2 linked regions of the Homo sapiens genome follow. The protein of the gene in region 1 binds, or shares a complex with, the protein of each later gene. Each region holds a gene or a part of one and is shown on either strand. Other genes may lie near its edges. The genes, in order: RILPL2 and RAB8A.

Region 1 (7,312 bases):
TTTTTGTAGAGATGGGATCTCACTTTGTTGCCTAGGCTGGTCTGGAACTCCTGGCCTCAAATAATCATCAGGCGTAAGCCTCCCAATGTGCTGTGGGATTACAGGCATGAGCCACCAGGCCCCTCAAAATTAACATCTCTTGACCGGGCACAGTGGCTCACGTGCAGCCAATCTCCAGAACTTTCTGATCTTGCAAAACTGAAACTCTATCCCCATTAAACGACAACTCTCCATTCTCCATCACCAGGTTGGCCAGGCTGGTCTCGAACTCCTGACCTCAAGTGATCTGCCCACCTCCATCTCCCAAAGTGTTGGGATTACAGGCGTGAGCCACGGCACCTGGCTCCATTTTTACTTTTTGTAGAGATTGTTCTCACTGTATTGCCCAGACTGTTCTCCAACTCCTGGCCACTGTGATGGCCCTTAGATGCACTTTGAGTTAATTTTTTGTATATGGTGAACTCCATTGGTTGAAAAGACTGTCCTTGCCCCATTGAATGGTCTTGGCTCCCTTATTGAAAATCATTTGCCAATATATGCAACAATTTATTTACGAGCTATTTTATTTTTCATTCTTTGTTATGGCTGAATACTATTCTATTGGATGGGCATACCCTCTTTTATGTATGGCAGGCCTAATATTTCATCTCAGTATTTAACCACTAGATGTTGTCACTCTGTGATTTGTGGACTTCTAGGCCCTTGCCCAGGAGCTTCGTTTTGATTATTACAACATTCCTGGCGGGGCACAGTGGCTTATTCCTGTAATCCTCGCACTTTGGGAGGCCAAAGTGGGAGGATTACTTGAGGCCAGGATTTTGAGACCAGCCAGGGCGACAGAACGAGGCCTTGTCTCTTAAAAAAAAAAAAGAAAGAAAGGCAGGGTGCGGTGGCTCATGCCTGTAATCCCAGCACTTTGGGAGGCCAAGGCAGGCGGATCACGGGGTCAGGAGATCGAGACCATCCTGGCTAACATGGTGAAACCCTGTCTCTACTAAAACATACAAAAAATTAGCCGGGCGTGGTGGCGGGCGCCTGTAGTCCCAGCTACTTCGGAGGCTGAGGCAGGAGAATGGCATGAACCCGGGAGGCGGAGCTTGCAGTGAGCCGAGATTGCACCACTGCACTCCAGCCTGGGCAACAGAGCAAGACTCTGTCTCAAAAAAAAAAAAAAAAAAAAAAAAATTAGCCAGGTATGGTGGCAAGCACCTGTAGGCCCAGCTACTCAGGAGGCTGAGGTGGGAGGATCACTTAAGCCCAGGAGTTCAAGGCTGCAGTGAGCTGTGATCATGCCACTGCACTCCAGCTGGGGTGACAGAGCAAAGCCTCATCTCTTAAGAAAAAATAGGCTGGGCTCATGCCTGTAATCCCAGCACTTTGGGAGGGAGAGGCGGGCAGATCACCTGAGGTCAGGAGTTGGAGACCATCCTGGCCAACAGGGTGAAACCCTGTCTCTACTAAAAATACAAAACTTAGCTGGGTGTGGTGGTGGGCGCCTATAATCCCAGCTACTTGCAAGGCTGAGGCAGGAGAATCGCTTGAACCCAGGAGGCAGAGGTTGCAATGAGCAGAGATCATGCCACTGCACTCCAGCCTGGGCTACAAGAGCAAAACTCCATCTCAAAAAAAAAAAAAAAGAAGAAGAAGAAAGGCTAAGCATGGTGGCTCATGCCTGTAATCCCAGCACTTTGGGAGGCTGAGGCAGGTGGATCATCCTGAGGTCAGGAGTTGGAGACCAGCCTGGGCAACATGGTAAAATCCCGTCTCTACTAAAAATACAAAAAATTAGCCATGCATGGTGGCGCGTGCCTGTAATCCCAGCTACTCGGGGTGGGGCTGCTGAGGCAGGAGAATCGCTTGAACCTGGAAGGCAGAGGTTGCAGTGAGCCGAGATCGTGTCACTGCACTCCAACCTAGGCAACAGAGTGAGGCTTTTTTATTTATTTTATTTTTTTATTATTTATTATTTATTTATTTATTTATTTTTATTTATTTTTTTTGAGACCGAGTCTTGCTCTGTTGCCCAGGCTGGAGTGCAGTGGCGCGATCTCGGCTCACTGCAAGCTCTGTCCCCGGGTTCACGCCATTCTCCTGCCTCAGCCTCCCGAGTAGCTGGGACTACAGGCGCCCGCCACTACACCCGGCTAATTTTTTTTGTATTTTTAGTAGAGACAGGGTTTCACCGTGTTAGCCAGGATGGTCTCGGTCTCCTGACCTCGTGATCCGCCCATCTCGGCCTGACTTTTTTATTTTATAAAAGTAAAATAGGCCAGGCAGGGTGGCTTACGCCCGTAATCCTAGCACTTTGGGAGGCCCAGGTGGGAGGATTGCCCGAGCTCAGGAGTTCGCGACCAGCCTGGGCAGCACAGTGAAACCCCATCTCTACTAAAATACAAAAAATTAGCCAGGCGGGGCGGCATGCGCCTGTGGTCCCAGCTACTGGGGAGGCTGAGGTAGAAGAATTGCTTTAACCAGGGAGGCGGAGGTTGCGGTGAGCCGAGATCATGCCACTGAGCTCCAGCCTGGGCAACAGAGCAAGATTCTGTCTCTAAATAAATAAATAAACAAATAAATAAAATAAAATAAAATAAAATAAAAAGAAACGACCCTCTGAAAATAGTGTGTTTTGTTAATTTGCTTTGCTTTTGTTGGTTGGTTTAATCTATGTACATTCTCCATTGAGATTCTAGTACCTCAGTGTGGAGAAAATGGATACACCTATCACAAGGAAAGCTGCCAATACATTCCTGGGAAAGACAAGCCCCGTTGCTGAGCTTTCTGCCTGAGACTATCACAAACCTCCAGTGAAACCTAAAATAACTTGAGATTTGTTGTGCCTTTTTTTTTGAGACATGATCTTACTCTGTCACCATGGTCCCACTCTGTCACAGGCACCACTCTGTGGTGAGATCTTGGCTCACTGCAGCCTCAACATCCCGGGCTCAAGTGGTCCTCCCACCTCAGCCTCCCGAGTACCTGCCACTACAGGCATGAACCACTGTGTCCAGCTACTTTTGTTTACTTTTTGTAGAGACAGGGTCTCACTATGATGCCCAAGCTAGTCTCAAATTCCTGGGCTCAAGCAATCCTCCTGCGTCAGCCTCCTGAAGTGTTGAGATTAAGGCATGAGCCACAGCGAATGACTCAAGTTTCTACGCCACTCTGCTAATATTCTCAGTAATATGGATTCCGCATATGTGTCGAATGCTTTGTGATTTTCAGACAGGGGTTTCTCTCTTGTTAATTACTCCTCCTTCTCTCACCCAAGTAGCAAGGTGTCTCCAACACCAGCAATTCCTCCCTAGCGCTGTGGAAGAAAGAATGAAGGGGCCGGGCGCGGTGGCTCACGCCTGTAATCCCAGCACTTTGGGAGGCCGAGGCAGGTGGATCACGAGGTCAGGAGATCGAGACCATCCTGGCGAACATGGTGAAACCCCGTCTCTACTAAAAATACAAAAAAATTAGCCGGGCGTGGTGGCGCGTGCCTGTAGTCCCAGCTACTCGGGAGGCTGAGGCAGGAGAATGGCGTGAACCTGGGAGGCGGAGCTTGCAGCAAGCCGAGATCGCGCCACTGCACTCCAGCCTGGGCGACACAGGGAGACTCCGTCTCAAAAAAAAAAAGAAAGAAAGAAAGAAAGAAAGAATGAAGGATTGCAGTCACGTATGTGAGTGCTTCCTAAGTGCTTGAGGTGTCGCACACATGATCTCATAAGCTCATGTTCCTCGCAGCAACCCTGCCACCTGGGTCCCGCTATTGTCCCCATTTTACAGAGGAGGAGACTGAGGCTCGGAGACGTTAAGTAACTTGCCAAGGTGACAGCGCTGGTTACGTGGAGGAGCCGAGGACCCAGCGAAGTGAGCAGGGCAGACATTCTCCATTTTATTGAGAGTCACAGCGAAGTCGGACGCCCCAGGCCCTAGTGACAATTTGCCTGGGAGTTTTCCAGATCCTCAAGCCTCGGGGACTCTGTCGCGCTGCCCCCAGCAGCTGCTTTCTGTTTGGCCGCAGGCTCCAGAAAACACCCTCAAAGAGACACCCGGATCTTCCATCACCTACGATGCAAATTCTACGGCTGGAAAGCACGAGGGTGGAAAGGAAAAAGTTGCGTTCTTTTTACCCCGCTCTGGATTGCACGGTGGAAACTCCGTCTCCACGGAAACGCACCTCCTGGCAGCGGTCGCCAGGGGCGGGGCTCAGGGCGGCTCCTCCCCGGGGCTGCAACTGTTCCCAGGCTGGGGCGATTGCCGTCACCCCTGAACTTCCCCGTTCCTCTTCTCGGCTGCCTCCTTTTCCGTTGTCCCTTCGCGCCCCAAACCACATCCTGGAGCGCACTCTCCAGCGTGGCTGGCAGCGGGGACGGTGCGCCGGGGCGCAGGCCCAAGAGTCGCGTGCGCGGCCCCTTGCACCATCCCCCCGGGCCCACCCCCGGGCCGCGCTGATTGGGCAGGTAGGGACTCTGCCCAGCGGAAAGTTTTGGGTGCCGGGAGGAAGTCTAACCTTTGGGAGACTCCAAGACAGCAGCTCCGAGGTCGGCGGGGGTCTGGGTGGCCATGGAGGAGCCCCCTGTGCGAGAAGAGGAAGAGGAGGAGGGAGAGGAGGACGAGGAGAGGGACGAGGTTGGGCCCGAGGGGGCGCTGGGCAAGAGCCCCTTCCAGCTGACCGCCGAGGACGTGTATGACATCTCCTACCTGTTGGGCCGCGAGCTTATGGCCCTGGGCAGCGACCCCCGGGTGACGCAGCTGCAGTTCAAAGTCGTCCGCGTCCTGGAGATGCTGGAGGCGCTGGTGAATGAGGGCAGCCTGGCGCTGGAGGAGCTGAAGATGGAGAGGGACCACCTCAGGAAGGAGGTGGAGGGGCTGCGGAGACAGAGCCCTCCGGCCAGCGGGGAGGTGAGTGTGGGAGCGAGGGTTCCGGGCCCACGGCGCCTGCGGGGCGTAGGAGGGCACCTACTGGCAGGGAGACGCCTTCCTTTTCTTTTCTCTTCTCTTTTCTCTTTTTTCTTTTTTTAAGAGATGGGATCTCGCTGTGTTGCCCAGGCTGGTCTCAAACTCCTGGCTCCAAGTGATCCCCCAGCCTCAGCCTCCTAGAGTGCTGGGTTTACAGGTGTGAGCCACCCTGCCTGGCCAGAATCTGTATTTCTAACGAGTTCGCAGTTAATGCTGATGCTATTGGCCCAGGGTCCACAGTTTGAGAACCTTTGACCTAGAGCAAGAAACACTTTTTTTTTCTTTTGACACAGGGTCCTGCTCTATCTCCCAGGCTAGAGTGCAGTGGTGCAAACACGGCTCACTACAGCCTTGGCCTCCTAGGCTCAAGCAATTCTCCTGCCTTGCCCTTCCAAGTAGCTGGGAGTACAGGCATGTGCCACCATGCCTGGCTAACTTTTTTGATGTTTTGTAGAGATGGGGGTCTCACCGTTACCCAGGCTGGTCTCAAACTCCTAAGCTCAAGGAATCCTCCCACCTTGGCCTCCCAAAGTGCTGGGCTTGTGGATGTGAGCCACCACACTTGGACAAGAAACACATTTTACCTAAAGAGAAATTAGTGCATATGACCACAAAAAGACATAGACAAGAAGATTCAGAGCAGCTTTAGTCTCAGCTGCCAAACTGGAAACACTCTAAATGCAACCCAATTGAGTTTTGAAATTGTGATATATGGAATACTATGCAACAGAGAAAAAGAACGGGGTGCTGATACACACAGCAGTGTGAATGAATCTCACAGATGTAACATTGAGAGAAAGAAGCCAGGCACTAAAGAGAAACTACTGTAGATTTTTTTTTTTTTTGAGTCAGAATCTTGCTCTGTTGCTCAGACTGTAGTGCAGTGGCGTGACCTCGACTCACTGCAACCTCCACCTCCTGGATTCAAGCGATTCTCCTGCCTCAGCCTCCTGAGCAGCTGGGATTGCAAGCGTGTGCCACCACGCGTGGCTATTTTTTTTTTTTCTTTTTTGGTAGAGACGGGGTTTCACCATGTTGGCCAGGCTGGTCTCAAACTCCTGGCCTCAAGTGACCCACCCACCTCAGCCTTCCAAAGTGCTGGGATTACAGGCCTGAGCCACAGCACCCAGCCCTACTGTACATTTAAATAAAATTCATGAACAGGCAAAATAATTTATAGTTATAGAAGGCAAACTGGTGGTGGGGGGAAAAGAAGGGAAATTGATAGAGAGCTAGAAGTGTCCCATATCTTAATCAGGGTATGGATATAGGGATCTACACATATGTTAAAAATCATCTGGCTGGGTGCTGTGACTCACGCCTGTAATCCCAGCACTTTGGGAGGCCAAGGCGGGCAGATCACAAGGTCAGGAATTTGAGACCAGCCTGGCCAACATGGTGAAACTCTATCTCTACTAAAACTACAGAAAAAAATTAGCCGGGCGTGGTGGCGGGTGCCTGTAATCCCAGCTACTCGGGAGGCTGAGGCCGGAGAATTGCTTGAAACCGGAAGGCAGAGGTTGCAGTGAGCCGAGATCGCGCCACTGCACTCCAGGTTGGGTGACAGAGCGAGATTTTGTCTCAAAAAAAAAAAAAAAGTCTTTTTTGCGGGGACAGCTTTCTCTGTCATCCAGGCTGGAATACCATGGTGTGATCACAGCTCACTGAGGCCTCAAACTCCTGGGCTCAAGCAGTCCTCCCACTTCAGCCTCTCCAGTAGCTAGGACTACAGGCACACACCAACCACCTGGCTAATTTTTGTATTTTTGTAGAGATGGGGGTCTCACCATGTTGCCCAGGCTGGTCTCGAACTCCTGGGCTTAAGTGATACGCCCACCTCAGCCTCCCAAAGTGCTGGGATTACAGGCCTGAGCCACCATGCCCAGCCTAGTTTTTAAAATTCTTGTCGAAACTCATTAATTTTATGACCTACTAGCAGGTCTCCAGCCACAGTTAAAAAAGAAAAACAAAAAAGCTGCTGTAAGTGGACGATGTCTTTTTTAATCCTCAGACTATTATTGTTTTACAAAACTGAGGCACAGAACAGTTAAGTAATTTACCTAAGGACTTCACGGCAAGTTAAGAGGTGAAGTCAGGATCTTAATTCAGAGATGCTAGTCCTAAATACTCCATCCTAAAATACAGACATTTGACCTTACTTGTACTAACATTTGATGAGTGACTGCAGTGACTGATGCTAGGCTCTGGGGCTATGGAGATAACGTAGACAAGGTCCCTGCCCTCAAGAAGCTCACATCTAGTGGGAGAGGTCAGACACACAGTCCTAGAACCAGAATACAAGTATACAAACCAGGCCAGGCGCGGTGGCTCACACCTGTAATCCCAACACTTTGGGAGGTCGAGG
Region 2 (6,122 bases), on another chromosome or scaffold:
GCATGCGCCACTGCACCCGGCCAATTTTTGTACTTTTTTTTTTTTTTTTTTAGAGATGGGGTCTCACTATGTTGTCCAGGATGGTCTTTAACTTGAACTGGCCTCAAGCTATTCCCCTGCCTCTGCCTCTCAAGGCACTGGGATTATAGGCATAAGCCACACACCCCAGCCCCTGGGGAGAGCTTTAAGCAAGGAGGTGACACTGATTTCAGTTTCGTAAGGACACTCTGAAAATAGTTTGAAACACAGAGGTGAGGACCTGAAACCCATGAGGAAGTGGTCACAGAGGTCCAGGTGGTCGTGGCTACAACTCGGGAGGGGTCAGCTGTGGGCACGATGGGGAAGGCAGGGATGGAGTCCAGGGTCAGGGCTGTGTTATGCTTACGGTGCCGATGAGACATTCAAATTGGAATAGAGAGTGGCAGGTGAAACCGACCTGGGTCTGGCCTGGATTTGCAGCTTGAAAGCCACTGGCCTATCTAAAAGCATAGTGTGTGCAGAAAAGAATGAATAGATCTGAGGCTGCTTCCTGAGAAAGGCCTGCTGGCAAGGTGGGCCTGCAGTTGGTAAAGTTCCCTACGGATATTAAAACTTCCCTACATGCGTGGCTCATACACTTTCTGTACAAGTGATGCGGTTTATGCTAAACCCCTGCTTTCTTTGTAGGAGTCTGGAATCCTGATAAGTGCCAGGTAGAGGGTTCCTATGTGACTGGCTCCATAAACACCTGGGTACAGAACTGCCAACTAGCTTTCACAAAAGACACATTACACACCTGTTGTTACAACTCATTGTTGGGGGAGTTAAGCATGGGGTGTGTGACCCCACTGTGAGAGGATTCTGGATGCTTCTGTCTGGTTGCCTCTGGACTTCACTCTGCATGCCTTTTCCCTTTGCTGATTTTGCTGTGATCTTGGCTGTGAGTACAGCTCTCTGCCAAGTCCTAGGGAATGACTGGACCTGGGTGTGGTCTTGGGAAGGACCCTGGATAGAGTGGAAGGAATGCCCTGGAAAGCCAGCCAGGAGAGGGCCCCTAGAAGGACCTGCCAGGGAGGCAGGAGGGACACAGTGGCCGAGCTGTGTGCCAGAAGCCAGGTGACGCAGGCTCACCATGTTGGCCAGGCTGGTCTCGAACACCTGAGCTCAAGTGATCAGCCCGCCTTGGCCTCCCAGAGTGCTGGGATTACAGGTGTGAGCCACTGCACCAAGCCAGGAGGCTTCTTTTCCCAATTTAGTCTTTTGATGATGGGTGGCATCTCCTCTGAGGTGGCCGCTCGATGGGGTAATCCATGGGCTCTACCATCTTGTCCAGACCCACCCCCAGCACCTGGCCATGTCCGTGTGGCCTACAGGGAAAATGTGGACATAAAAATCCTTGGACTTTAAGATGAGCTTTAATTTGTTTGTTTTCCTTAAGTGCATTTATCGATGTAAACAGAGCATGTTAGAGATTCCCGGGGAGAGCAGACTATTGCTGATATGTTGGTTTTAATTCAAAAGAAACGATGATGCCAATGGTTTGGATTGACAGCAGCTTAAGGAGGAAAAAAAAAAAAAGAAAGAAAAAAAGAAAAGGCTGGTGACACCCCCCTGGCGTGGTTGACCTGGTCCCAGTCGCAGTCCCTATGGGACAGCAGAGCTGTCAAAACAGAACCCAATGATGACGGCTGAAAATCAAGCCAGACTGCTGTGCGGTCAGCTTGCCGCCGTGGAATGCCTTGTGTCTTGGCCATGTCCAGCCAAGGGTACAACGTGCTTGTTCCCGATCACCCAGGTTTGCCATTGGAAGTCAAAGACAGAATCGCTTCATGGCACTACAGATGTGGAAAAATAAAAATCTCAGCTAGAAAGAACGTCCGATTTGGAGATAGCGGGAGGACACGAAGGAGTGGGGGCCATTTTGGTGCTGAGAGGAGGGTGCCCCAACTTCAGGAGGACCATGTGACGGCTGTGGTTGTTTTCGGGGTCACTTGCAGCACACACAGCGTCCCCTTGATGCTCGATGGGGACCGCAGACGGGCCTGCAGACCTAACCCCTGGCTGTGGACAGGAGAGGCTGCTCCAGGCTTCTTTCCTTCTCAATGCTTTACACAGGATTTCCTTCATTTGTGCTTTCCTTTGGTTTAACAGTTAAAAAAGAAGAGTGAGGGGGCAAAATGGTTTGTCACTTGTCCAAAACTGAGAGAAGAGGTGGAAGTGGGCGCCAAATCTCCTGGGTGATGCTTCCTGGTCCTGGCGATCGGTTGCCTTGCTCAGGGTTTGGGAGCTGTTGCTCCTGGAACCACCGCTGGCCTTCTGGGACCTCGCTTCCGTGGTAGGGGACGTGAACCAGCCTCCTGGTGGAGCTTTGTGTTGCAGTGAGGCCACAAAGCAAAGGCCCAGAGGCAGAGGCCTGACACTGGCTGTGGTCGACGGTCACACCTTGACTCCCTCTCTCTCTCTGAATATACAACGTGTGGGTGGGCCCGTTCAGCAGATGTTACAGGAAAAATAGCAAATTTTTAACTTATTCCATCTCCAAAGTTGAAAAAGATCAGACAGTTACTAAAATAAACGATTTCTCAATTGCATTCTGGTGGCCGTGGGCCCGGTGGCCGCGGCGTGGGCGGGGCGTTGGAGGTGGGAGGGCCCCGGCTGAGTGAGGGGCTCACTCAGAACAGGCACAGTCAGCTGGGCTGAGCGAGGCTCAGAGTAAGGCGGTGTTCCTCACAGAAGAACACATCGGAAAAAGCTGCTCCTCTTCTGCTGGTCCGGTGTGATTTTGACTCCCTGGTTGCTCCCCTGGGGGCTGTTGCCTTCCTGAAATCACAAGAGGTTTTCTGAGGTTATCACTGAGAATCAGCACTACGTCTCACAATCAACCAGCCATCCACCTAACCATCCACCTAACCATCCATCCAACCATCCAACCAACCAACCAACCAACCAACCAAACAACCAAACCAATCAAACCAGCCAAACCAACCAACTAACCAACGAGCCATCCAACCATCCATCCATCATCTGCCAGGTCATCCATCCATTACCATTCCAGCCATCCAACCAACCAATCAGCCATCAAACCATCCATCCATCATCTGCCAGTCCGTCCAGCTGTCCCCTTCCAACCATCCAACCAACCAACCAACCAACCAACCAACCAACCAACCAACCAACCATCCATCTATACCCTTTCAACCATCCATCCATCCACTCACCCATTCCCTTCCATCCGTCTATCCACCTGCTTCCAACCAACAAACCAATCAACCAACCATCCATCCCTTCCAACCAAGAACCATCCACTCATCCATCCCTTTCCAACCATCCATCTTCTTCCAACCATCCATCCCCTTCCAACCAACCAACCAACCATCCATCCCCTTCTAACCACCTCATCCAACCAACCATCCATCCATCCCTTTCCAACCATCCATCCACCCATCCATCTCCTTCCCCCCATCCACCCTCTTCCAACTAACCATCTCCTTCTAACCACCCCTTCTGACCAATCAACCATCCATCCATCCCCTTCCAAGCAACCACCTCCTTCCAACCAACCATTCATCCATCCCCTTCCAACCAACCAACAAACCAATCATCTATCTATCCAACCATCTCCTTCCAACAAATCAACCATCGATTTATTCCCTTTCAACCAACCATCCATCCATTATCTTCTACCCATCCATCCAATTCTCTTACAACTGATAATTCGTTTTTCAGAAACAGATCTATTTTCCATCTGCTATATACCACCCCTTCCAACCACTCTCTCACTTATCTGCCCACCCCATCATACCCTTCCCAGCACTTTGGGAGGCTGAGGCAGAAGAACTGCTTGAGCCCAGGAGTTTGAGTCCAGCCTGGGTAACAAGTGAGATCCTGCCTCTTAAAAAAGAAAAAATGGCCAGGCGGGGTGGCCCACACCTGTAATCCCAACACTTTGGGAGGCCGAGGCAGGTGGATCACCTGAGGTCAGGAGTTCAAGACCAGCCTGACCAACATGGTGAAGCCTCGTCTCTACTAAAAATACAAAAATTAGCTGGGCGTGGTGACATGTGCCTGTAATCCCAAGTACTCGGGAGGTTGAGTCAGAAGAACCGCTTGAACCTGGGAGGCAGAGGTTGCAGTGAGCAGGGATTGCACCATTGCACTCTAGCCTGGGCAACAGAGCGAGACTCCTTCTCAAAAAAAAAGAAAAAGAAAAAAAATTAGCCAGGCATGGTGGTGTGTGCTTATAGCCCCAGCTACTTGGGAGGCGGAGGTGGGAGGATTGCTTGAGCCCAGGAGTTGAAGGCTGCAGTGAGCTGTGATGGTGCCACTGCACTCCAGCCTAGGTGGCAAAGTGAGACTCTAAAAAAAAAATCTCTTTTTTAACTAATAAGAAAACTAAAAGAAAAAAGAATCAGACCTTGACCATTATACTGAAGAAAAAAAATTGCAAGAAAATCCCAAATTATTGTTGGTCAGTGCACTGGTTTCCATGAACTGTTTCCCATTTTAATTTAATGGCCAAAGAGCTGCTATTAAATCAATCACATGCCTCACTGTTCAACACACCGCATCTTAGAATTACAAAACAGATTTGCTTACATCAGATGTAAAACTTGAACGGCATTTTGTATTTTATGTGCATTCTCAAGTGACCAGACTTAACCCACAAATAGAGCGCCGTGTGCTCCTCGATTGGACAACCAATGTAACATGGCCGGGAAAGGGCAGTTGCTGGAACCAGGGCGAGGGAGGAAGGGTCACTACGGTGTTTAGGCACTAAATGCCCCCAAAGTACAGGGAAGTGTTTGATTCCATCAAGAAAGCACCATTGATACTGAGCGCAGCGGACTAGGAAATCGCTAACGTGGTAAAAAAAAAAAAGCAAGAAACGAATGAGAGGGTAGATGGGTAGGGATTCATGCAGACTTCCCTGGAGGCCTCAGAGAACCCTGGGACACAATGAAGGTTGCAGAGCTGTCACAACTTGTAGCATCTGGGGCTGGGGTGGAGCGGGGGCAGGTTCTTGATCTGCCATGCTTGTCAAGACGATGAGCCAGCAGTTATCAGACACCAGCCCTGGCCCTGCCCAAGCGACCTAGGAAGCTTTTCTCCGAGCCATGGCTCTCTGTCCTTGCACACCATGTTGTCTTTCTGGCCCTTGAGTGGAATGGAAAAGGCCGTGTGCTCCCTGCTAGCCTGGGGATTCACCGGGCACGGCCTTGTCTGCTTGGGCAGCGTCCCCAGGCTGGCACTGCCTGATGCTGATGCCCCAGCCACACCTGCAAACTCTTCCCCCTTTCCCAGCAATGTCCCATGGGGTCTGGCTGGGCCCTAAAAAGCAGGATCTAGGGCACGTCATATCACTGCTGCTAACGACGATGGCTGGATCCCAGAGATCCACCCGGGGATCTCGGAAGGACACACACTCACCAATTTTTTGTCCATTTTTGCTTTGATATCTCTGGCGAGAGTGAAAAATGCCTGTGGAATAAGCACATTGTGAGTCCTTGGGATGGCAGGACCCTGAGTCCTCAGCCGCCCGTGTACAGCGGGTGTGGTGAGACAGCTTCCCAGGCGTGGGCCTCCCATTTGGCCCTTTGATGCCCGCCTCTGGCAGTGGGTTCATCTGGCCTGTCCGGCCCCAGCTCATCCTTCCCCGGCTCCCTCTGCCTCCCACCCACCCTTACTCTCTGACATCAACTCTCACTTCCGCAGAGCACCTTAGCATTGACGGGACTTTACGCATGTGCCACCTCCCCTAAGCCCTGTGAGATGGGGCGACACTCAGTTGGCCAGAGAGGAAACTGAGGCTCAGAGAGGCCAAGTGACTTGTCCAAAGGAACCCAGCAGTTAACCGACCAATCCAGAAGGATCTAGGAGTGCCCAGTTCTTTGTCTCTGACTCCTAGGTTCTGTCAGCTCTGGCCTCCCTTCTGATGGTCAGGGAAAAAGGCAAGCAGCTCTGTGGCCAAACAAGCTTCACTCGGAGTCCTTGCCTGGCAGGGCTGGGAGCGGGAGCAGGTTCATCTCCCAGCACAGCCAAGGGTTGAGCTGCTGTCACAGCCTTGAGGAGGGGACATACAGAGATGGCGGGAGGCGTGATCCCAACATACATCCCCATGATGTGGGAGGTTCTGGAGAGGAGAG

Evidence for each region.
Region 2: the proteins of RILPL2 (region 1) and RAB8A are in contact, whole or in part, in a crystal structure (PDB 6SQ2), measured with the Homo sapiens proteins. Residues at the interface, in NP_659495.1 of Homo sapiens: Leu135, Leu138, Arg139, Leu142, Gln143, Arg145, Asn146, Lys149, Ser150, Leu153, Glu157; in NP_005361.2 of Homo sapiens: Ile41, Gly42, Ile43, Asp44, Phe45, Lys46, Ile47, Lys58, Trp62, Phe70, Ile73, Tyr77.

The regions. Positions count from the first base shown.
Region 1 is NC_000012.12:123,433,660-123,440,971, reverse strand, and holds the start of RILPL2 (RILP-like protein 2), read left to right. Parts: upstream 1-4,287; 5' UTR 4,288-4,551; coding exon 4,552-4,890; intron 4,891-7,312. UniProt on the Homo sapiens protein: Involved in cell shape and neuronal morphogenesis, positively regulating the establishment and maintenance of dendritic spines. Plays a role in cellular protein transport, including protein transport away from primary cilia.
Region 2 is NC_000019.10:16,128,889-16,135,010, reverse strand, and holds the end of RAB8A (ras-related protein Rab-8A), read right to left. Parts: intron 5,458-6,122; coding exon 5,407-5,457; intron 2,800-5,406; coding exon 2,707-2,799; 3' UTR 777-2,706; downstream 1-776. UniProt on the Homo sapiens protein: The small GTPases Rab are key regulators of intracellular membrane trafficking, from the formation of transport vesicles to their fusion with membranes.